Homo sapiens: one gene and its partner. The protein of the gene in region 2 interacts with the protein of the main gene of each other region in a pairwise test. Each region holds a gene or a part of one and is shown on either strand. Other genes may lie near its edges.

Region 1 (13,166 bases), on a different chromosome or scaffold from region 2:
TAAAAGGTAGAAATAACAAAATGACATTTTATTTTGGAATGAGAGAGGCAGACACAGGTAGCTCTTAATGCCTTTGACTCTTGGCAAGCACTTCATCAGAGATATACACCCCATTCTGTGATTGTTATCTGGACATGTGCAGCCTCATCGATTTTCTGGAAGATGGGTTCTGGCTAGGGAATGGCAGCCCAAGCCATCATATGCTCCAACAATAACCCCTCAGATAATTAACGGGTACATACACATTTTTAAACCAGAAGAGACCTAACTTAGGTGGTCTGCCAACTTCTCATCCTAGAGAAAAGGATGCCAAGGCCAGGGAAGTGAGGTGAAATTTTTCTCAAATCTAGTCAGTAGAACTCAGGAATCCTGACTTGGTCAGGCACTTTTTCTACTGTCCTTGGTTATATCTCTTTAGGTCATCAAAACTTTATAAATATTTCAAAATGCTCAGAAGGAGAGAAGACCAAACGCTCAGAAGGAGAGAAGACACACGGAACAGAACTAAGACTAGGAATTCTGAATCAGTCCCTAATAAGAAAGCTAAAGAACAAGTCATCTGGACATTCTCTGTTGGTTATTACAGATACTGAGCTCAGCAGGCTCACAGCTTAAGACAGCTCAACTAATTTTTCCAATATTGATTAAGAGCCACAGTCCTGCCGGAAGAGGTCCCCCAACTAGTTTTAAAGAATAAACAGGATTACAGGACTGCACAGCATCAACTCAAACTTAATCCAGCAAGGATGGATAAATCAATAAATTGAAGGTGCTTGCTGGTTTAGTGTAGTGCTGGAGGAGTGCCAGCTCACACTAGAACAGCTTTTAGTCTCCAGAGACTCTCAAGGTCAAGGGCAGAAGAAAAAATAATTTGGGCCATGCAAATTTCTTTTGTCATCTGAGTTCAATGAGATTGGGGCTCTGAATGAATGTTCATATCCTACTGTTTTGAGTCATCACTTTCTATTCTTCACTCAAGACATTTCAGAAAAAAACATACCTCTTAAACTACAAGTTTCATGGGATCGAAGAAGTAGAGCCTAGTTGAACATAATGTTGTAAAATACTACCTGAGAGAGCTTTATTAAAAATAATCAACCAAAACGAAATAAAGCAGTCAATTTTGACAATGTGGTGAATATATTACAGACTTATTTTTACTAATGCAAATAACTTCACAGATAGCTGCTTAGTTCTCCTACATGAAAAATCTGAGCACACAATTTTAATTAAAAGTTGAAACTACTTACATTCTGGAATGATTGACAGTAAGCATTCGTGATTCTTTTTCTTTTTTTCTTTTCTTTTTTTTTTTTTTTTTGAGACAGAGTCTTGCTCCATCGCCCAGGCTGGAGTGCAGTGGTGTGATCTTGGCTCACTGCAACCTCCGCCTCCTGGGTTCAAGCAATTCTCCTGTCTCAGCCTCCTGAGTAGCTGGGACTGCAGGCGCCTGCCGCCACACCCGGCTAATTTTTTTTTTTTTTTTTTAAGTAGAGATGGGGTTTCACCTTGTTTGTCAGGCTGGTCTCGAACTCCTGACCTCAGGTGATCCACCCACCTCAGTCTCCCAAAGTGCTGAGATTACAGACGTGAACTATTGTACCTATATTTTCTTTAAAAAAAAAATTGCATTGCTATGGAGTATTCTACTAATTTGGGGGAAAACTGAAGAATTAAACAAAGACCCATTGTCAGAGAGAGTTCCATATGACAAAAAAAGTGTCCAAGTTTTCTTCTTTTGCAGTAATTTTATTGTATTAAAAACTTCTTCAAAGAAGTGGGCAAAGTCATAAAAAAAATTTTGGCTGTGCAACTATTTGTTATATTATTTATCATATTTTGGTATGATTTGGACTCCATAGATAATGTTTTTTCCAAATCCCCATCCACTAAAAATCAGTGAATGATTTGAAGGAAATTTGTTAAGTCAATTTGTAGTTGAAACTACAGTTGCAGAAGTAGACCCAGTGGACATGCATGCGGTGGGCGGTAAAAGACGCAATCTATACTAAGTACTCCTATTAATGGACATGCATAATGTCCATCTTATCATCTCTCCTATGAGATTCATGTTTACGTTATGTCAATTTTATGTAGTAAATCCACTGTTAAAATTTCTTTAGAGAAGGATATTAACATTGTTGACTCTTAAGAAACCATACCAGGAACAGTAGTATCCCAATGGCATGTTGAGTAACAAGTGCTTAAGCAAACAGGCATTGCCTTGATCCTGCAAATCTGATCTTGGGTCAGTCAAACAACTGGTTACTCTGTTTTAAAATAGCTAGGCAAATATTGCTTTTAAGTGTTTAACATGATTAAGAAAAGCAACAAGGCCCTTTGAACATTGTATCTTCCTTTTTTACTTATACTCCTCCAGCTATCCCCTTACCTCCTCAAGAAGCCCTTAAAACCAAAACACACAACTGACAGAATGGGTGAAGTCACAAGCACATACATATGTAGACTGAAGAGACAATTTAATTTTGGCTGGGTCGCGTTCTAGGCAGGGCAGCAAAAACTTCTGACTAAATAGACAAACTCAACGACCTTTAGTTTTCCTCCATGTGGCTCCATTAGCTCAGCAGAGGTGAATCGTAGACGAGAAAGTATATGCTGCAGGCACTGTGAGGCAAGGCATGCTGCCTAAGTTTCCTCATCTATAAAATGGGGATAATGCCTTCAGGACAGAAAAGCATGCTGAGATAATATAAGAAAAACATCTGGCTTGATGTTCAGCTTCCTCTCCCTGCCAAGCTATTGCTATGACTACATGGAATGTGCCATTTGCATTAAGAAAGATGCACAAGAGCGGACTGTATGTAAACACGCAGTCAGCACATACCTGGGTTCTGCCTGGTCTTTCTGGATGTTATTTAGAACTGGAAACAGGTTCTTAACCACTGATAATGCCTTTTCTACCTGAAAAGGATGAGGCATACGTATTGCAGGAATTCAAGGATGACCCAACATCCAGCCAAGCAGTCTCTTTGACCGAGGCATGGTTGACACAGCAGAATTACTAATTTTTAATAAGTCCCCACTGCTGAATCCAATGGCCTCTATCATTCTAATTAGGTACTCTTATTAGAGGATAAGGCTGGAGAGATTGACCTTGATTTACCTTTTTTCCAACCAAATGTGGAAAACCCTTTAGCACGGTGATTGTTAACCAGGGTCCCACATTAGAATCACCTGGGGGGGGGGCTTTTGAGACTCCAGACGCCTAACCCACACCCCAAACCCAACCAATTTAATCAGGATATCTGGGGGTTGGGGGATCAGGGTCCCATATTTTTCGAAGTCCCCAGTGTGATCCAAGATGAAGCCAAGGTTGAGACCTGCTGTCTAGGATCATCCCTCTTCACCTCAAGTAACTTCTGCTGCAAGGCAAACTAGGAAAGCCAACCTAGAGCATTTCACAACCACAGCTTCTGACAGCAGTCACAACAGGACCCCGAATACTGGAACATGACAGGAGCCTGCACCAGGGTCCACACCGAGGGTCCAACAGAGCTTATTAGTAGGGGATTACCCAGCTCCCCATGGGAGAACCATTTTCTCAAACAGTTTGCACTTCAATACAAATAAGTTCAACAATCTTAGGAGATGCCACCAGTGCCTAAATTGGCCTGACCATCAGGAAATTTTTTCCTTCTTTAAGAGACAAACCTCTTGGGAAGGAAAGTCAGTGTGTATGTGGGCACCCCACCGGCCCCCACCCCCAGCCAATCTCTAGAGAAGCAGACAGAAGCATCAATTCCCGTGCGGCTTGGAAAGCACCCCGCGGGCTCCCCGCTGCGCCGGCTCACGCCCACTGCACCTGCCGGCGCTCCGCCGCACCTGCCGTGCGGCGCCCTCCCCTCCTACCTTCCAGCAGCTCGTCCAGGCTGGTGACCTTCCGGCTGCCGTCGATGGTGTAGATAGTGCGGACACCCTGGGGCAGGTTCACGTTGTCCGACAGGGAGCGGGTGAGCTCTATGAGGAGCGCATCGAAGGACCGGAAGCGGTCGCTGGAGATGGCAAACACCAGGCCCTTGAAGTAGCGGTCCCCGTTCCGGTAGAAGCGCGCCTTCTTGGCCTTCTTCTCCGAGCTGAGGGCCTGCAGGGTCCGCGTGCGGTAGAAGCTGCAGTGGGCACTGTGCGCCGGACTGGGGATGAGCCCGTTCCCCTTGGGGCCCGAGCTGCTGCTGCCCCCGGAGGAGCTGGGGGCCCCTCTCCGCGACCCCGGCCGCGGCCTTTTGTCCCGTTCCTCAAAGTGCTCCAGCTCGATACTCCTGGTGCTGGCCATCGCGGCTGCTCCGAGGGCGTCCGCAAAAAGACGTTCCGGGCCGACTAAGGGTGCGAGCGCCGGTGCAGGGACGTCTGACTGCGAGGGCCCTTAACGCGCCGGGACACCTGGCTCTGGCATCCCGCCCTCTCCGCGCAGGTGGGGCCGAGGAGCCGCGGAGGAGCCGACCCGCCCGCGCCCTCAGCTAAAAGTGTCCGCAGCGCCGAGCTGCCCAGGTCATTGTCCAGTGCGACTTGCTCCGTGCCTCCCGCCTGCCGGGGAGCCCCACGCCCCCGCAAGCGCCTCCTCCACCCGGCCACGCCTCACAAGTCCCGCTCGGGAGCCGACCGGGAGAGGCAAAGTTGGGCCGCCCGAGGCTCGCGCTGGGCCCGCGGGCGCCCACAAAGCTCGGGCGTCTGCCGAGCGCTCCCGGGAGCGCCGAGGGGAGGAAGGAAGGAAGGGTGGGGCGGGGCGCGGAGCGTGGGAGAGGCCCCCGGGGGAGTCGCGCGGGCCCAGGCCCGGGGTGCAGCGCCGCCGCCTCGGCCGCGCCCGGATCCCGCCCGCCGGGCAGCGCGCGCCGTTCGGGGCTGAGAGGGCCGTGTCTGGCCCCTTCCTTCCCTGGAGCGCGGCCCTAGCGGGAAATAATGCAGCCCGCCTCCCACGCAGCGGTCAGGCCCGGCCCACTGGCAAGCATCCGCGCTCTGGCCTCCCTCCGCCGCCGACAGGCTGTCAGCGCTGGAGGAGGCTTCCCGGCCCCGGGGATGCCAAACCGCGGAGAAGGGGAGGAGGGGGCGGAGGAGGGGGCGGAGGAGGGGGCCGAGCGCCGGCGCGGGAGGAGCAGCTCCTGCGGGTCCCGGGCAGCCCCGCCCGCCTGACGGCTCCTGCCCGGCGCCGCGCGTTAATGGGCGCAGCCGCGACGCGCGCTCCTCCGCCTGGGAAACGTAACCGCGCAGGCCAAAAACTACAAAGGAAGGAGATTCAAGGGCAGGGAGCACATCCCCAGCCAGCATCCCAGTGAGGACCCCAGGCCAAACTACCGCAGAAATCCGAAGCCCAGCATTGACTTGGGGCACACCATTCATTTTTTTTAAAAAAGATTTGTTGCTTTATTAGAAAATCCTTTGAGAAAACAGCCTCCACTGTTTCCATTGCAGATTCGCTAATATGGTACGTTCAGTAACTTTGAATGAATGATGAGAAGTTATTGGGTGGTAGAGGGGGTTATGTAATCAACGAATATTTATCGAGAGCGTACCATGTGTCAGGCATTGTTTCTGTCACTGGGATGCCCTAACAAAGGAAAGAGAGACTCTGCACCCACTCCCCCCGCCCCGCATATTTAATGTTGTCAATTAAAGCTTCTTACCTAAGAGGCCTATCATTTGTGAGCACCCATCATAGTGGAAATCTTAATGCCGTAGTGTCTATTCAACAATAAAAACATCTTTTCCAAGACTTAAGAGAAATACTAGTTACTTGCATTTTGTTATTAGGAAAAATAAAGCTCAAATATGTTTGATCCCAATTTGGCACGTGAAACCTTAGAACATTCAACACCTGGTTTTCTGAGCAGCCCTAGACAGCAATCCAAACTGACCTTTCAGGAAGAAAGGCATAGTTGCTTTTTTTCGGGTTGAACTGAGTCCTGGAAGAGCATGAATAAAAGAAGGTAGAAGCACATGCAACGGTCTAGCATCTGTGAAGTTGGTGCGCCCCACCAAACACACGCACACACACGCATACACACCCTTCATGGCAGCTCCAGAAAGGTCTCCTGCTCGGTGCACAATACTACTCCTAAGGCAGTTCTGGGCATACACCTGGGCATACCTAACTTCCTGCGGGGTTGGGGCATGCTAGGAAGTCAGAGCTGATCTGAGGCTTCAATGTAGTTTTTCTAGAGGAAAATCCTGCAGCATCATTAGGTCCACCACCTTAAAAGGCCTCAACCTAGATCAGTTAAATCAGAATTTCTGGAGACGGGCTTCTCCAACAGTATTTTTTTAAAAGTACCCCTAAGGTATATCCAGAGTTTCCAACCACAGGCTGTAACACCAGGAATCAAATAAATCAGTGCTTCTTCTCAAACTTTAATATATTTACATGTCATAGGGGAATCTCGTTAAAATGCAGATTGCTATTCTGTAGCTCTGGGGTGGAGTTTGAGATTCTGCATTTCTGATGAGCCCCTGGGTAATGCCAATGCTGCTGGTCTTGGTACAAGACTTTGAGAAACAAGAAACTAAATTGCAAATTTATTGAGATAAGTTTCCATCTAAGTACCAGTAACTCCACAGAGCCCATCAACTTGCCTTAAGATGGCCATGTTCATTTGTATCACTGTTAGTATTTCTTAGGGGGAAAAAGACTTTGTAAACTATTGCTGTAGAAACAAATTATCCTAAACTTAATGATTTACAACAATAAACATGCATAATCTCAGCATTTTTGGCAGATCGGAAATCTGGGAGCAGTTTACCTCAAAGCCTCATGTGATTGCTGTCAAGATGTTGACAGGGGTCACAGCCATCTAAAGGCTTGACTGGGTCAAGAAGATCCATTTCCAAGACAGCCCATTCACATGAATGGTAAGGAGGCCTCAGTTCCTTGTCATGAGTACCTTTCCATAGAGTTGCTTAAGTGTCACCATGACTTGTCGGTTGGCTTCCTCTAGAGCAGGGGTGTCCAATCTTTTGGCTTCCCTGGGGCACATTGGAAGAAGAATTGTCTTGGGCCACACAGGAAATACACTAACATTAATGATGGCTGATGAGCTAAAAAAAAAAAAAAAATCACAAAATCTCATAATATTTTAAGAAAGTTTACGAATTTGCATTGGGCTGCATTCATAACTGTCCTGGGCTGTGTACAGTCCACAGGCCATGGGTTGGACAAGCTTGCTCTAGAGAAAGCATCCAAGAGAGCACAAGGTGGAAGCCACAATGTGTGTTATGATATAGCCTTGGAAGTCATACACTGTTATTCCCACAATATCCTGTAGGTTACACAAGGCAGCCCTGTTTGATGTGGGAGGAGACTACACTAGGGTGTGACTAGGAGTCAGCAATTATTGGGGTCATCTTGCAGACTGGTACCACGGGTTTCAATCTTTCAATCTTTAGAACACTAACATGCACTTCCTCACTCAAAGATCCTTGATAAGAGATTTGGCCCTTCTTAAATAGTGAGTACAATTATACAATATGCCAGTATTTTTAACTCAAGGTGGATTAAAGACTTAAATGTAAAACCCCAAACCATAAAAACCCTAGAAGAAAACCTAGGCAATATCATTCAGGACATAGGGATGAGTGAGGACTTCATGGTGAAAACACCAAAAGCAATTGCGACAAACGCCAAAATTGACAAATGGAAATAAAGAGCTTCTGCACAGCAAAAGAAACTATCACCAAAGTAAACAGTCAACCTACAGAATGGGAGAAAATTTTTGCAGTCTACCCATCAGACAAAGGTCTAATATCCAGAATTTACAAGGAACTTAAACAAATTTACAAGGAAAGAAACAACCCCATCAAAAAGTGGGCAAAGGATATAAACAGACATTTTTCAAAAGAAGACATTTACATAGCTAACAGACATATGAAAAAAAGCTCAACATCGCTGATCATCAGAGAAATGCAAATCAAAACCTCAATGAGATATCATTTCATGGCAGTCAAAATGGTAATTATTAAAAAGTCAAGAAACAGTAGATGCTGGCGAGGCTGTGGAGAAATAGGAACACTTTTACACTGTTGGTGGGAATGTAAATTAGTTCAACCATTGTGGAAGACAATATGGCAATTCCTTAAGGATCTAGAACCAGAAATACTATTTGACCCAGCAACCCCATTACTGGGTATATACCCAAAGGAATATGAATCATTCTGCTATAAAGACACACACACACACGTATGTTTACTGCAGCACTGTTTACAATAGCAAAGTCATGGAACCAACCCAAATGCCCATCAGTGATAGACTGCATAAAGAAAATGTGGCACATGCACGCCATGGAATACTATGCAGCCATAAAAAAGAATAAGATCATGTCCTTTGCAGGGATATGGATGAAACTGGAAGCCATCATCCTCAGCAAACTAACACAGGGACAGAAAACCAAATGCCCCATGTTCTCACTCATAAGTAGAAGTTGAACAATGAGAACACATGGACACAGGGAGGGGAACAACACACACCAAGGCCTGTTGGAGGGTGGGGTACAAGGGGAGGGAACTTAGAGGACAGGTCAATAAGTACAGCAAACCACCTTGGAACACGTATACATGTATACCTTTGCACATTCTGCACATGTATCCTGGAATTTAAAGTAAAATTTAAAAAAATAAAAATATGCCAGTATTTTAACATTATTCCCTAACATTATATCCTTAAGTTAAAGAAAGGTTACTGCTTTTCAACAGGGGTAGGGGGAAAAGAGAAAGTATTTCCAAAGCTGTTACTTAGTTAAAAAATGTTTTTTTGATCCTACTCTCCACACTTGTTTTCTTGAAGAATCTTATTTGTGATCCTCTTATAAGAATTGAGATGCAATCACTTTTCATAAGGTATCTATGAAAAAATATGATATAAAGACCCAGTTGGTCAACATTTGAAGATTTGTTGAGGTAGGAAAAAATTAGTTTCAGTATTCAAATTCTAATGCAAACAAAATTTGTAGGTTCTAGGTAGGCAACTATTACTTAACTTGGCTTACTTCATGATATTCAATTTATAGAACCGAAGCAGATTTTTTTCCTTTCATGCAGTTGCAGAATTTGCAGAGTAAGACATTTTAATGGGCATTTTCTTTGTTGAGATACTCATTTTTTTCTAACGAAGAAAGGCCATCTGATTATTAATCATTGGTCCTTCCAGAGATGGTCTAATTCTCTTGGTGGTTACAAGATCCACCAACTCTGTCTGCCACACCCTGATTTAAGGAGCTTCTTTAGGAAGAGCTGGCCACAGATGCCTCCTCACTATCTGGAAGCCCACTTTAACCTTAGATGTCTCTTGGTTGTAAAAAGTGTTGTTAGAAAAACCCTCTTTTTAACTCCCCTTAACCTAACACTTACTTGAATAAAAACTTTTGTGCCAAGTATTTTTAAAAAGGCTTCATTTTTCTGCTAAAGGCCATTGGAGAATTTCAGCCCAAAAACTCTTCTCCCCTTTTTGTGTAACTAGAAATGACCCCTTTTGCTTTTTATTTATAATACTTATAAATCATGGAATATCTAGTGGATGTGAAAATTTTGTTGGCAGTATGCAAGAAGGGTCTTCTACAAACCACTTGGGGCAGAGAAACTCAACTGGGCATAAAGGAAAAGAAATTGTTCTCTTTGTTCTCTACACTTCTCTTTGTATCACACACCTGTGATACAATTTTAGAGCTGCTTTTAGCCAGGTAGTAATTCCCTCTCCTGCTTACTCCCTCAACCCCACTCCACCTTGACTAAGAAATACAATGCAAATTTTTATCTAGCATAATTTGTTTAAATGAGACTTTATTAAATATTTCATTATGGGTCTTTACATAAGAAACTTGCCTTGAACATTTCCTGGTGTTTGCCTCATGCTGCTTTATTCCTCAAATGCTATGGTTAGTCTTCACTTTTGGCAAGAGACTTCTGTTTTTAAAGGCAGTTTTCCAGTGACTCCATTACTTATTACATAAAGGATGCCTCTGAACCTTTCAGATTGCACTGTGCTGAGACTTTTTGCTGTCTCATGTTTTCATTCCTGTTCACTATGTGCCAAGAATTTCTCCCAGAAGTAAAAAATGATGAAATAACTAAACTATTTTAAGTGAGAGCACCCGGTGACTATAGACTTAAATTTTTGAAACTAAGCATGATTCTCATTTCAATCTTAATAATTATAAGTTCTAGTGCTTTCTGTTAAGCTTTAATGGGGAAGGGTATAAGGTAAGGCAGCTCAAAAGCAGACTCTCCATCTCTACCCCATAATCTGTACCTAGACTGGAAAAAAGGCTCAAACTGTTTTCTCAATAGTTCTTCTGCCTTTGGAGCTTCGTTGTCCTTTTCACCCCTGATTCTTGTAGCACTTTACATAGATATTAATGATTTCTTCACAAATAAGTGAGGGAATAATTGAAACTACCTTTTCAGGTTCAAAAAATTTGAATGTACCTGTTTGGTTAAGTCTTTCAGAAAATCTAAATTTTGGCTTGTGGCTCATGCCTGTAGCCCCAACACTTTGGGAGGCTGAGGCGGGAGGATCACTTGGGCCCAGGAGTTCAAGACCAACCTGGGCAACATAGGAAGATTCCCATCTCTACAAAATATTAAAAAAAAAAAAATTAGCCCGGCGCAGTGGTGCGTGCCTATAGTCCCAGCTACTGCAGAGGGTGAGGTGGGAGAATTGCATAAGCTCAGGAGGTCAAGGCTGCAGCAAGCTGTGATTGTGCAGCTGCACTGCAGCCTGGGTGACAGAGGGATGAGACTCTGTTCTTGAAAAAAAAAATTGTAAGTTTAATTTTTAAATGAAAATATCAGAAGAATTGAAGAAAATAATCAAATATGCATGCTTTAAATATATATGGCACACAACTACTGTTTTTTTCCATGAGAAAATTCTGATTCTTTCTATGGTAAACTTCCATAAAGTGTCTAGGACAAAGACTCCATACATATAATGTAAATTTATATGTCATGTAAATTTTATATATTCAAAATTATATTTTTATTTTGTCATTTGCCAGTTCAGATGCAACAATTATTGATGAAAAATAACAACTTTAAAATCATATAGCAACTTTTTTCTTAGGAATTTGAATTTGTTCCTCTTAAATCTTCGTAAGAAGAAAATCTGGGCAACTAGTAGAATTCATACTTTCCAGATGAGGAAATCTAGGCATAAAAGTGAAAGATCATGAAAAGTACCACAGTACTCTCATTTTGTTTCTGTAGGATGAAATTTCCCAAACCCAATATAAAATTTAATCTTTAAATCTAGGTTTTTTGCTTCATTTAAAATTTTAAAAAATTATTTTTGTTAAAATTGATCATGATTTTAGTGGTTTTCTCCTCTCGGTAGTACCTTCAATGTTTATACAAATACTGAATGTGACAAACTATGTTCATGTCATTCTACATATCAGATTAAAACAATGATGGTCAAGAGTACTTAAAGGATAATAAATATTTTATAATGATTAATAAGTTGTTATGACCTAGTTAAGGAAACAGATTATAGACAAGGAAATAAGAAAGATTAAGCAGCAGAGATAGAAATTGCCTCCAGGGTATGCTAACTCCAGAAAATGTTCACTTCAAGCTTTCAAAATTCATTAATCACAAGAATGTCTGTCTCTTCAGGAATTATAGCTTAAAATTAATGATTCTTTAATTTACAGTAAGTTTATATTGCAAATTATCTGGTTATTTTAGGACAAACATTCTGTATACCCTACACACACATATTTGAAATAGTCAAATGTTAAAATATATATATCTTATTAATGGGAATAAGGATCTACTCAGACTTTAGTCAACACTCCTTAGCAAATCTGTACTCATTTGGCTATGTATTTAGTTTTTTTTTTTGTTTTTTAGTTTTTCATTGGTACTTCCCAGAGTCCTATCACCCTATCTGAAATAACTAATTGATCATGATTTACCGTTTGTATGAAAGATACAGCAGAAACACTGTGTGTGTGAATATATATATGTATCTGAGATTAAACACTTAAGGCAAAGAGATATATGCATGTGATTACCTGATTGTTTTTATCTTAATGTAACTGATATGTTCATCTTTAATAACTTGGTTATGATATAAAGCTACATTTCATTTTAGTATTAAAATTAATTATAATTATTATTTATTATTATTACTATAATAATAATATTTTTCTCCTTGGGCATTCTCCCTTTAGTGATAAGCCCATGAACCCCTAGGATCTTAGTTGGTTCAAAATCTTAGCCAATATCCTCATGAAGAAAAATCTCTAAAATGAGTCAGTCCTCCAGGGACCTCTGTTTCAGCTCCCATTGCTGTGTCAGTGCCCCACACTGTCTGACACCCTCTTCTGACCAATGCAAGTGCTGGAACTGTAGGCCCGGAAACAGTTTCAGAAGGTATGGAGAAGGAAGGGTTTTCCCCAACCCCCACCAAAACAAATAAATAAAATAAAGTCATCGTGCCAACTTGCTATACATCTACTAACTGGAAAGAAAAATCTGTTCCAAGGTGTTTATCTTCTTTACCACTTAGACATGGAATGATTGGTTTTGGCCTTTAGGTTATAGAATTGCAAATACATAGAAAATAGGCTATGTTGAAGTAATTACAAGAAATTCTCCTTTAAATTCTTACTTGTTAAAAAGGACTATCTTAATGTCTTCAGCGTTCTCAGATTTCTTTAATAGACCTGGCACAACCAGAATATGTAAACGATAGGTCCCATAACAGTATGGAGATACCATAAACCACTATTAATAGCCTAGTTGTTTTTCTTGGAGTTGTCCTGAAACTACCTACTTCATTTCATGTCATTTACCAGCTTGGTCACACAATTCAGTGGGAAATTCTGAAAGTCACTTGGAATGGTAAGTGAGGCAAGGCCAGCAGAGAAATGCAGTATGGAAGCCCTGATCTGTCTCTACACACAACTGCTTTATATTTTAATAAATCTTAATTCAAACAGTGTCTAAACTTTTGCTGTTAGACGTGTTGTTTGAATGGATGATAAAATTAGTCACCTTTTCCTTATTACTGGTATGGTCAAAGACTTTCCCTGGAGCAAAAGTTTTACCCTAATGTGGGTTTTGTTAGGGGTGATAAAAAGTTGTTTGCTGAAGTTAATTTAAATTCCTCCAAGAAGAAACTGTGGTCAATCCCCAGATCTCTTTCAGTGTGTGTTCCAATGCAA
Region 2 (12,438 bases):
AGTCAGAAGACCCCAAAGACATATGTAAAGACAGCTCCTGTCTGAGTACACAGCACTCTCCTCTGGGCACCCAGCCTGCTGAGAGGGATTCCTAGCAGGCAGCCTCCCACTCTGTGATCCTGGCCACAGTCACTCGTGGTCATACAGGAGTGGGAAATATGAATCAAGATGAACAGAAACTTAGCAAAGGCGAGGGAAAGAGAAACAAAGATAAAAAGAGAGAGACGTGTATTGACTGTGTATGACGGGAACTGGAACATGTCAAAGAGCAACTGTGGGCACCCACTTCTGTCTGCCATGTGGGCTGAAGATCAGAGAAAGGCAGTCAACTGAGAAAGAATAAAGCCAAAAGGAGGACAGGCAGTGCTCCTGAACGCCTCGTTCTCCCAGTTGCTAAGCCCAGTTCGATGTCTGCCCTTGGGTTCTGAGAGAACCTTACATTCTTAGAATAAATTCTTCCTCTTTACTACCTTAGGTTGATTTTTCCTACTTATAACCAAGGGTCCTAACTAATAATTTTAGAACAGAAATATCTGTAAGTTACTCAAATTTTCTTGGCCTTCTCTCTGCATCTGTAAAAACAAGAGCACTAGACATGATCTCTAAAATATTTTTAGTCCTAAAATTCTCATTCTTTTTATATGATTTTGTAAATATGCAACACACTAAATACACATGCCAGTTAAATAAACTATAGCTACTTTTAAAGTCTCAGCAACGCATTTGTGAAGTTTACCTGATCTAAACACTTTTAAAACTCATCTGCGATAGCCGAGACATATGCAGTAACTTATTTTCTACCTAAAAAGCTTAGTGCATTTATCAATAAGACTACAACTTTAGAGGAGCAGCAGTACTTTACACTTTTATGGTAAGCGTGTATTAAGTAGAAAACAGTGAAACACTCAGTGATTAAGTGACCAACATGATAGAGTCTCTAGATGGTAGTAGTAAGTAAGGGTATAGGTCTGGCGTCAGATGCCTGGGTTTGAAGCGTGGTTCTACCTCTTATTAGCTCTGTGATATTGGGGCAAGCTACTCAGCCTCTCTGTGCTCTAAAATGTAAAATCTGGACCGGACACGGTGGCTCACGCCCATAATCCCAACAGTCTGGGAGGCCGAGGTGGGCAGATCACCTGAGGTCAGGAGTTCCAGACCAGCCTGGCCAATGTGGTGGAACCCCGTCTCTACTACAAATACAAAAATTAGCCGGGCATGGTAGCTGGCACCTGTAATCCCAGCTACTTGGGAGGCTGAGGCAGGAGAATCGCTTGAACCTGGGAGGCGGAGGTTGCAGTAAGCCGAGATCGGGCCGCTGCACTCCAGCCTGGGCAACAAGAGTGAAACTCCATCTCAAATTAATTAATTAGTTAATTAATTTAAAAAGTGTAAAATCTAAAACTTTTAAATTGGGGTACTTCAGGCCAGGCACGGTGACTCACGCTTGTAATCTCAGCACTTTGGGAGGCCAAGGCGGGCAGATCATGAGGTCAGGAGATCGAGACCATCCTGGCTAACATGGTGAAACCCCGTCTCTACTAAAAAATTAGCTGGGCATGGTGGCAGGAGCCTGTAGTCCCAGCTACTTGGGAGGCTGAGGCAGGAGAATGGCGTGAACCTGGAAGGCAGAGCTTGCAGTGAGCCGAGATGGTGCCACTGCACTCCAGCCTGGGCGACAGAGCAAGACTCTGTCTCAAAAAAAAAAAAAAAAAAAAAAAAAAAAAGGGGGGGTATACTTGGCCAGGTGCAGTGGCTCATGCCTGTAATCCCAGCATATTGGGAGGCCGAGGCAAGTGGATCACTTGAGGTCAGGAGTTCGAGACCAGCTGGCCAACATGGCAAAACCCCATCTCTACTACAAATAAAAAAAAAATTGGCTAGGTGTTGTGGCTCACGCCTGTAATCCCAGCTAGTCGGGAGGTTGAGGTGGGAGAATCGCTTGAACCCAGGAGGCGGAGATTGCAGTGAGCAGAGATGGCACCACTGCACTCCAGCCTGGGCAAAAGAGTGAGATCATGTCTCAAAAAAAAAATTGGGGTACTAATATTAATAGAACCTACCTTACAGGTTGCTGCGATAATAAAGTAAGTTAATGGATGTAAAGCACTTAGTACAGTGCATGGACCTTAAGTACACTGTAACATTAAGGCTTATTATCATGCCCCTTCGTGTGGTACTACTACAGCCAAAATAGTAAGCCTGATCTAGTTAACTTTGAAGAAACCCCCCAGCCCACCTTCTGAGTATAGTTTCTCAAGACTCAGGACCCAGGTCAACTCTAACTCCACAGATGAAGACAGTAATAATGTCCACGGGTGAACTGACTTTTTATTCAAGGTCATAGAACTAGTAGCTAGAAATAAAGTTAAGACTAGATTCTAGCCTGCGCAACATATCAAAACCCCGTCTCTACAAAAATTAGCTGGGCGTGGTAGTGTGTGCCTGTAGTCTCAGCTACTTGGGAGACTGAGGCAGGAAGATTGCTTGAGCCCAGGAGGCAGAGGTTGCAGTGAGCTGAGATGGCGCCATTGTACTCCAGCCTGGGCAACAAACTAAGAGCCTGTCTCAAAAAAAAAAAAAAAAAAATTAGATTCTATTTGCAAAAAATACAAAATAGTGTGGTCGGAAAGAGCAAAACCTCTGAAATCAGAGTGCTTACTGTGTGACCTACAGAAATTTTGTTAACTTCCTATCTTGGTTTCCATCCATACATTACTAATAATCATCATCATCTTATTATCAAGTTAGGGTGGTGAATAAATGAATTAACCTAAGTGAGAACCCTCAGTCTCCCCTCTCTACCAACCCCATGCCTCCCTAGGGTTTATCATAATGCAGATTTATAACAGATCAGAGTCAGGCGCAGTGGCTCACGTCTATAATCCCACCACTTTGGGAGGCCGAGATGGGCATATCGCTTGAGCTCGGGAGTTCGAGGCCAGCATGGGCAACGTGGCAAAACCCCATCTCTACTAAAAACATAAAAATTAGTCAGACGTGGTGGTGTGTGACTGTAGTCCCAGCTACTCAGGAGGCTGAGGTCAGAGGATAAACTGAGCCCGGGAGGCCGAGGCTGCAATGAGCTATAATCCACCACTGAACTTCAGCCTGGGCAACAGAGTGAGACCATGTCCCAAAAAAAAAAAAAAAAAAAAAAAAAAATTGTGTACATAATTCTTTAACTGGTTACAGCGGCCTCATGCCTGTAATCCCAACATTTTGGGAGGCAAGGCACGAGGATCACTTGATCCAGTTCAAGACCAGCCTGGGCAATGTGGCCAGACCTCTTCCCTACAAAAAAATTTTTTTAAATAGCAGAGCTTGGTGGCGTGCTCCTGTGGCCCCAGCTACTTGGGAGGCTGAGGCAGGAAAATCGCTTGCGGTGAGGATGTCGAGGCTGCAGTGAACCACGATGAAGCCACTGCATTCCAGTCTGGGCAACAGAACAAGGCCCTGTCTCTAAAAAGAAATCTAAGTACAGAATTATATCAATTTAAGGAAGAAAACTATTATAAGAACTACTTTGCAATGGCAGAGACAGCCGCGGCAGCAGTAGCGTGCTCAACAAGAAGTGCGTAGCCCCACTCTCCCAAAAGAAAAAAACGAATCATTGTAAAACACAAAAACCTTAAATAAGAACTCTTTAAATGAGTGCTGGAGGAAAAATTTAAGAGGCTTTGAGGAAAAACATTTACTGACAAAATGTTCAATGTACAAAAATTCTGTATCCTTACTTTTCATATATAGGTTTATCAACACTTTATACATGGCCTTCAGAATTTCAAATAGTAGGTTTTTTTTTTTTCAAGAGGGAAACCAATTAGACCAAATGACAAGGCATACTTATACTACCAGGAAAGAAATACTGAAGAACGTGTCTTGTTTCATAAACTTGGTACTGACTAAATAAAAGAAAGCCTCACATTTTTGTGCCTAAGAATGATTAGTATAGGGATTCTCAAAGCATGATCTGGGGACAAGTGAATCCAGTTGTCCTAAAAGATCCCAGTCCCCACTAAAGGGGCTTCCCAATGTCAAAATTATTATCCAAATAATTTTTTTAAAGTTATTGGTCAGCCGGGCACAGTGGCTCACATCCGTGATCCTAGCACCTTGGGAGGTAGAGGTGGGCTGATCACTTGAGCTCAGGAGTTCAAAACCAGCCTGGTCAATATGGTGAAACCCTATCTCTACTAAAAAATACAAAACTTAGCCAGGGGTGATGGCATGTGCGTCTGATTCCAGCTACTCAGGAGGGTGAGGCACGAGAATTGCTTGAACCCAGGAGGCAGAGGTTGCAGTGAGCCAAGATTGCGCCACCTCCAGCCAGGGCGACAGAGCAAGACTCCTTCTCAAAATAAATACATAAATAAAGAATAGTTATTTGTCTTTTTCACTTTCATTCTGTTTTCTAGAGGTTTACACATGGTATGTGATATTGCAACAGACTGAATGCAGAAGCTGATGAGAAGCCCATTGGCTTTTATTAAGCCAGATATTAAAGAGATATGCAAAAATTTAAAACAATGCCACTCTTTTCACCAAGTTCTTAACTGTTTTAGAAAAGTTATTTTTCATAAAAAAATGTTATTTAGGTTACCATGTAATAGAATTAATTTTTATTTGTTTATTTATTTTTTGAGACAGTCTCACTCTGCACCCAGGCTGGAGTACAGTGGCATGATCTCTGCAACCTCTGCTCCGGGGTTCAAGCGATTCTCCTGCCTCAGCCTCCTGAGTAGCTGGGATTACAGGAGCCCACCACCACGCCCAGCTCATTTTTTTATTTTTAGTAGAGACGGAGTTTCACCATGTTGCCCAGGCTGGTCTCGAACTCCTGGCCTCAAGCGATCCACCCGCCTCGGCCTCTCAAAGTGCTGGGATTACAGGTGTGAGCCACCAAGCCCGGCCCCCACTAATTTTTAAGAGTACAAATAAGTACAAAGAAGTCCTGAGACCACAGGCTTGAGAACAACTGAAAGTGTAAGAGATAAGTGACAACACACACACACACACACACACGTGCACGCACAAACCTCAACCTCTTCCTACCTCTGCCCTGGAAGACTATTACTGCTATTTATATCACAGAATTTTTGAACACTTCAAACTCTCTAGTGACCAGTAAAAAAAGAAGTTTGGTGGGGGTAAAACTGGACAGGAAATTAAAGGCAAAGAAATTAAATGCTTCCTTTTCAGTTATAAGGCTGCCATTCTGATGTGAAGGCAAAATTATAGGCAATTAAAAGACATTTCAAAATTAACCTCTATGTTTGTGCCATAAGCAATAATTTATTGCTTTCACATTCCTTCCACAGCTGCTTGAAAATTCATACAAAAGCTTAAGGTATTCAATGCAAAAGCTAGATTCTCAGAGGTTGATATAATATACTTACCCTCAATGAAAAATTTAAATGATTTCATACTATCTTCATCCCCAAACTGTTCTCCTACCAAAATTGATGCCTATGCAGAAAATGCCACAGTTGCATATCGAAAAGAGAATGCAAAGGCTTACTACGGATAAAAACAGAATTAATTTCTGAGTCATAACATTTCTCACTTCTGTAACCCATAAAGTAAAAAAATGTAAATTTGACAATCTCAAAGCAGCCAACTTCTCAACATACCAATATAAAAGAAAAGACAAATTTAAAGACAGACTTTTAAGCTCTATTAGCGGTCACTTTACTCTCAATACACTACTCAAATTGAAAACTCACTTTAATATGGGAGGAGACGTTGTGTAAGTTAACTTTAATTTGTTTAATACTGGAAATTCTTTCTTGTCATCAAAATATTTTTATAACTCAGGACCAAATTGCAAATGACCATTTAACTAAGCTATTAGGAGGGCCCTGGGTCCTCCAGCCTCCAGACTGGCACCAAATTACTTCACTTTTCAGGTATGTTTAGCATTTCGTCATCCTATAATACAAGAAGCCTTATAAGAAAAAAAAAACCCTGCTTGAATGCTATTTTTCATCAGAAGACTTTAATTTAATGCTTCTCTGCTTATTCCACACTATGACTAGAAGTAGTCCAAGAGTGATGTCATGGAAAACAGCTTCCCTAGCCTTTAGAGATTGGATCCAGTGAGAATTCTAGGAAAAGCCTCTATTGGGGAATAAAACCCCAAATCTTCTAAGTTCTATTCTAACATGAAATCACAAATACTGTAATGTTAGCCTTTCAGTTCCTCATAAGAATTATACAACCAAACTAAATATTTTGGAAAGTCTTGCTGTTATGATACAGATTTCCTGCAAATCATTAGTCTATAATATATATCATTAACTAAATTCAAAGATCTTATCAGAGACAAAGGGTATTTTTTTCTATCCATTCTTACATGTTTCAGTGATTGAGCCTGATGAGCTTTAAGGGTCTTACGTTAAAAACAGAAAACCTGACAACATATTTTGTCTTTCCTAATTTCTTACTTGCAAAGTTAAAATTTCAAATTCTGAAAAGGTCTTCCACTTTTGGACCAGCAGCAATACAACATATACCCTTGGCAGAGATGAACTATGAGAGCCTTTCCAATGATTCTTAAAATGGCAATAATAATAATCTTATATTACTATCTCCCTTGGTGCCGCTGTTCCTTGAAAACCAGCTACACTCCCAACTTAAGGCCTCTCTACACCCTGTTCCCTCTGCCTGGATCACACTATCCCCAGATATATATGGTTCCCTTAGGGTCTTTGGTGTCATTTCAGTGAGGCCTTCCTCAAACACCCTCTTTTAAAGTTGCAAAACCCCATCTGCCCCATCAACCTGACAATCCCCATGCCCCTCCACTTTATTATTCTCTGCAGTATATTAAATGGCAATACAGGCTATCCATTTTACTTAGTTTCCTTTCTGCTTCAATTTGTCGGTTTTGCTTCACTGACTGTTGCATCTCCAGCACCTAAAACAGTGCTTGGCACATAATAAGTGCTTAATAAATATTTGTTGGAAAGACAGATAAATTTAATTCTCGCAACCTTCCATGTTTTGTATCCATCCCCGACTTAAAGATGAGAACATCAAAGCTCACAGAGGTTAAGTAACTTGCCCAAGGCTATAATTATTAGTAAGTTGTGAAGTTGGGGTCTGCCTGACTTCATAGCCTCCCCTATTAAACACTGTTCTACAATGCCTCACCCATGGCTCCATCTTTCATTTCTCTTCAATAAAAAAAAAAAAGCACCACATGAGCTATAGCACTCCAATTCAGAGAAAATAGATGCTAATAAAGTAATCCACCTCCTCTAAGCTAAAGATTCATTCTCCTCACAGTTAACATTATTCACTCTCAAAACATTTGCACTGGGAAAGGCCAGGCTTGACAACAGGCCACCTACATCATTTGCGGGGACTCTTGTTCAAAATCAGGGAAAAATGTTGTTAAAAGGCTGGGCGATGGCCGGGCGCGGTGGCTCATGTCTGTAATCCCAGCACTTTGGGAGACCGAGGCGGGCGGATCACTTGAAGTCAGTCGAGACCAGCCTGGCTAACATGGTGAAACCCCGTGTCTACTAAAAATACAAAAATTAGTCAAGCATGCTGACGCGCATCTGTAATCCCAGTTACTCGGGAGGCTGAGGCAGGAGAATCACTTGAACCCGGGAGGCGGAGGTTGCAGTGAGCCGAGATCGCGCCACTGCACTCCGGCCTGGGAGACAGAGCAAGACTGTGTCTCAAAAGATAAAAAAAAAAAAAAAAAAAGGCTGGGCACGGTGGCTCCCGCCTGCGCTTTGGGAAGCCAAGGCGGGTAGATCACTTGAGTCCAGGAGTTCGAGACCAGCCTGGCCAACATGGTGAAACCCCGTCTCTACTAAAAATACAAAAATTAGCCGGGCGTGGTGGCGAGCGCCTATAATCCCAGCTACTTAGTAGGCTGAGGCCCAAGAATCGCTTGAGGCCGGGAGGTGGAGGTTCCAATGAGCGGGGATCGGATCGCACCACTCCACTCCAGCCTGGGCGACAGAACAAGACTCTTGTCTTAAAAAAAAAAAAAAAGTCGTTAAAGGTAATAAAATGTAAAGCTCTTTCAAAACTTTCTTCTGTATCTCTCAACTGTTTCGCGGTTTTTTTTTTTTTTGAGACGGAGTTTTGCTCTCGTCGCCCAGGCTGGAGTGCAGTGCCGCCATCTTGGATTACCGCAACTTCTGCCTACCGGGTTCAAGCGATTCTCCCGCCTCAGCCTCCCGAGTAGCTGGGAATAGAGTAGCTGGGATTACAGGCGCCCGCCACCACGCCAGGCTAACTTTGTGTTTTTAGTAGAGACGGGGTTTCTCCACGTTGGTTAGGCTGGTCTCAAACTCCCGACCCTCAGGTGATCCGCCCGCCTCGGCCTCCCAAAGTGCTGGGATTACAGGCCTGAGCCACCGCTCCCGGCTCTCAGTGTTTTTTAAATTTGATGTTTAATGTCGTTCTGAGTAAAGGAAAATTAAAAATTTAAATTAGCATGAATTTTACCATTCACCCTTATACTGTACAATCCCAGTTTTACATGCAGATTATTAAACCAAGTGTGGGGCCCTTCTGAACATCCATGAAGCCAAGCCTGCCCTGATCAAGGTTAGGTTTCTGAGATAACCCGACTCGAGGTAGAGAGAAGGTCAAACCTTGAAATCCCCAATAAAGCAATGATTTGTCAAAATTTTATCAAGATTAGTGATAAATCCAATCTATAAAACCAGCCACTTTGAAGTAGGCTCTTCCTTTTACTATGTAAATCCTGCCCAACTTCTATTATTTTGCCTTTTTACAAAACACAAAAGCATACTCTGAAAGACAACTGGTATTGGACTAGAGGATTATAAATTTAATAAAACATCTAACTACTCAAAACCATTTGTTAGCTAAAAATAACAATATACCCAAAAATGCTTCTCTTTTCACTTTTTGTGGACCATTTAAGCCAAACCATACTATATTTTTGATATGCCAAGTAAAAATGATCAATACTAATCTGTTACACATATAAATCCTGGCAAAATAAATTCAATTTTCAAACCACAAATATTTACTATCCTATTCTTTCCCCAAATTAATCAGCAATGAAGAGTGCAAGTTAACATCCTCTACCACTGATAAACTGTGACTCTAAGCACCTACTACGTGTTGTGATTAAAAATGAGAATAAAATTATATAATTACATTAAGTGCTAAAAAGTTGAAATGTTCTATACATTTCTAGATCTATTAAGGATTACTGAAACATGAATGCATTGATAAGCTCTTCAAAACCAATTTTCAAATTAGTAGAAGTATTCAAGCATCCTGCTCCCTAGATATGAAAAACAGGCATTAAAATTAGGGCATATATGTCTGCAAAGCATTTTCTAAATTACCACTTAATCAGATTAACAAAGGCAAACAAATTCGGAAAACAGAAAAGACTAACAAATGTAAGGTGTTAAATATTTGGAGTAAGAAAAGGGGCCTAAAGCGGCCTAGAACGATGAAAAGCAAAGCCCCTACGGTAACGTTACATTTGAATTAAAGAATACCGTTATTTAAATAAGCAGTTAGCACTTCGTAGGAGGAAGGCCAAGCAACGTGACTATTACAGATCTATGGATTCACAGCACTGCTTTACTATTATTCCGTACTTATTTGCTTATATTTATAATATAGAAATAAAGAGGCAGCAACAGTTAGCCACTACATTAACCACTCTACCAAAGGTTACTTAAAAAACGGCCTTGCATTCTTACAACACTCTACAGTTAAGGATTATTTTCACATATATGACCTCATATAGTCCTCTCAACCCTGCGATGTTGGTAGTACCGACTATATTTCATAGATAAGAAACCAAGGCTCGGTACGCGATTTTTTCTCAGAGTCACCCAAGTCGAACCCAGACCTTCCGATTCCTAGTTTTATGCCTCGCATTTTGCATAGTTCTATTTCAGGCATAAATTGAATTGTTAAAGGGAAGGAACGGGTTAGGCAAAAAATAATCATGGTACCTGCAGCTGTGTGCTGCAAAAAATGGCTGAATTATGCTTCTTCCTTTTTCTTTCTCGCTCTCTCTGGAAAAAAAAATTACATTTCAAACAATTTAAGTAAACTCGAAGACAAACGAGGTCCCGGCGTCTACCAAATGTTTGACTCGGGTCCGTGCAGAGAGGGCCGGCGAATTCGTGCCTAGCTCGGGGCCGCGGGCGAAGCCCGGGCTCCGCAGGCCGGCGGCCAGGGGCGGCTACGTACCTCGGGGGGTCCTGTCCAGCCTCTAGTGGACGGCAGTCTGCATCAGGAAGAACCGGGCCAGCGGGCCGATGGGTGGGCGGTCGGGCGCCGGGACGGCACTCGGCAGGCTCCTCGGACGTCTACGAGCAGCCGCTCCCGGCACGAGCCGGGTCGCTCCGGCGGGGCACGAGAGTGCTCGCCTGCAGCCCCCTCTGGATAAGTCCTGGGAAAGAAGACAGCGCTGAGTCGAGAAACCAGACAGTCGGGCTCCGCACGAGGCGGCGCGGCGTCGGGGCCCGGACCGACCTTGCCAACGCCGGGGGCCTCGCAGCACCCGACGGGGCTCGGCGGGAGGGCCGACTGGGGCCGCGGGCGGGGAAAAGGGCTGGGGGGCAGCAGGCAGAGACAGAAGCACCAGCCGAGGAAGCGTCGAGGACGGCGTCTCTGGGCTTCTGCCCCGAAGCGCGCCGAGCCTCGGGATCACCCACGCCGGGGGTGGAGGAAGGCGGGAAAGGGGCGGGGAAGGGGCGGGGCGTGCGGGGCCACGAGCCGGGGGCCGCTCCGGGCCGCGCGCCCCCTGCGGGCCGCGGGAGCCGCCCGGGGCCCGCCCAGGGAGGCGGGGCTGGCCGGCAGGGGGCCCAGTGCGCTGTCGTCTTGACGCGGAAGGCCGCCACGCTGGGAGAGAGGGCGGAGGGTGGGAAGCCGTTGGGGGCGGGGAGCTGGCCCGGGAGGCCCCCCCCTCGGCCCCTGCTGGCGCCCCGAGGGGGCCAGCCCGTGGCCTGGCGGGTGTTTACCTTCCCCCTGGTCGAGCGCCAATGCCGCCATCTTTCAGCCCAAAACGCGTCACTTCCGGCGCCACGGGAGCGGGAGCGGGTGTGGGAACGGGGGGGAAGGGGGGGCGGGGAAGGCTGTCCCGCGCCCGCGGCGCCCCGCGTCCCGGCTGCCGGCCCGCCACGCCAGCGGTTTCCCACCGAGGAAAACAGGCGGCCGGGCGTCGCGGCCCTGGACTGGGCCCGACGCAGCTTCCCCCGCGGCGCCGCCGTCGGGGCTGAGGACACTCAGCTGTCCTCGTCCCCTTGCAGCGGTCTCTCTCCGCCTGCACGAGCGATGGGCCCTGAGCCACTGCGGTGCGCCCACCCTCGACAAGTTGAGGGCTAGGAAGCCAGGAAAGTGTCTTTTTGCATCTTGGCCACGGTGGGGGTGGGGGAATCGGGGACAACGTGGAGGGAGCTTTTCCATAGCTACCTGTTATAAAAGTGACTAGATCTGCGCCAAATGACATCATTTTTTGTAAGGCAACTTGCAGTGGACTATTGCGTCACTGTCCACTTGGCTTACTGCACAACAATTACACGTTTCAGAAATCGATTTCCCAAGGGTGGGAAAATTCATAAAAAATTGCATGTCTGCACCACCCGGAGATAATGCCGGATTTAAAAAAGCTGTCTCTACTTGCGTCAAAATAATCAAGAACGAACATTCAGAGGGCAGTGATTTTTGTTGTTCGTTTTTTATAGAATTCTAGCTAGTACTTTTTAAATATTACCTTTTCTTGACAAGAATATAAAACTAGACTATAGGACTGTTTTGTAAATTTATTATGGCATCTCTTTCTGGGAAAAGTGTAGATGACGGAAATACACAGTTGGAAGCCCGTGGATCTACAATTAACCTTAAATTAGGGCATCCATTGCCCATAGCAGATCCTAAACTGAGGTATTTCGGCTTCCCCCACCCCCACCCCCCGCCGCCATTTTCTCTCTAGACCAATATCCCGATGAACTTTCCGTGAGAGGTGTCGCTAAAAGCGATAATTATCTCTTTCTAGCAAACTTGAACATACCATCTTTCCCAAGAGGCCAAAATAGCACACGGTGTACTGTTTTGCTGAAGTAGACTACTTCGTGGGAGAGATAACACAATCACTTCAATCTTTTGGAAATACGCTTCCTTATTCCGATTTAAACTATAACAAGCTTTAAAAAAACTGTAAGACACTGAAATTCCCAAGTTGTTCACACTTTCTTTCCATCTTTTCCAATAGCTCCTTTAAGATATTTCTGTTCATTATTTAAAAATCCCTGCTTGCCATATTTGTATCTATTACTACATGACAAATTACCCCAGAATTTCACATTAAAACAAATTTTTAAAATTAAATCATAAAATAAACTTTAAAAATGCATACATTCCACTTCTGAATATTTAAATGTTCATGCATTATTCCCGAACATCTAAACGCTGAGT

Evidence for each region.
Region 1: the proteins of KLHL15 (region 2) and DCLK2 interact in binary tests that used the Homo sapiens proteins (3 or more experiments, as listed by UniProt).

Annotation. Positions count from the first base shown.
Region 1 is NC_000004.12:150,070,153-150,083,318, reverse strand, and holds the start of DCLK2 (serine/threonine-protein kinase DCLK2), read right to left. Parts: upstream 4,875-13,166; 5' UTR 4,292-4,874; coding exon 3,871-4,291; intron 1-3,870. UniProt on the Homo sapiens protein: Protein kinase with a significantly reduced C(a2+)/CAM affinity and dependence compared to other members of the CaMK family.
Region 2 is NC_000023.11:24,014,645-24,027,082, forward strand, and holds part of KLHL15 (kelch-like protein 15), read right to left. Parts: intron 10,415-12,438; 5' UTR 10,213-10,414; intron 1-10,212. UniProt on the Homo sapiens protein: Substrate-specific adapter for CUL3 E3 ubiquitin-protein ligase complex.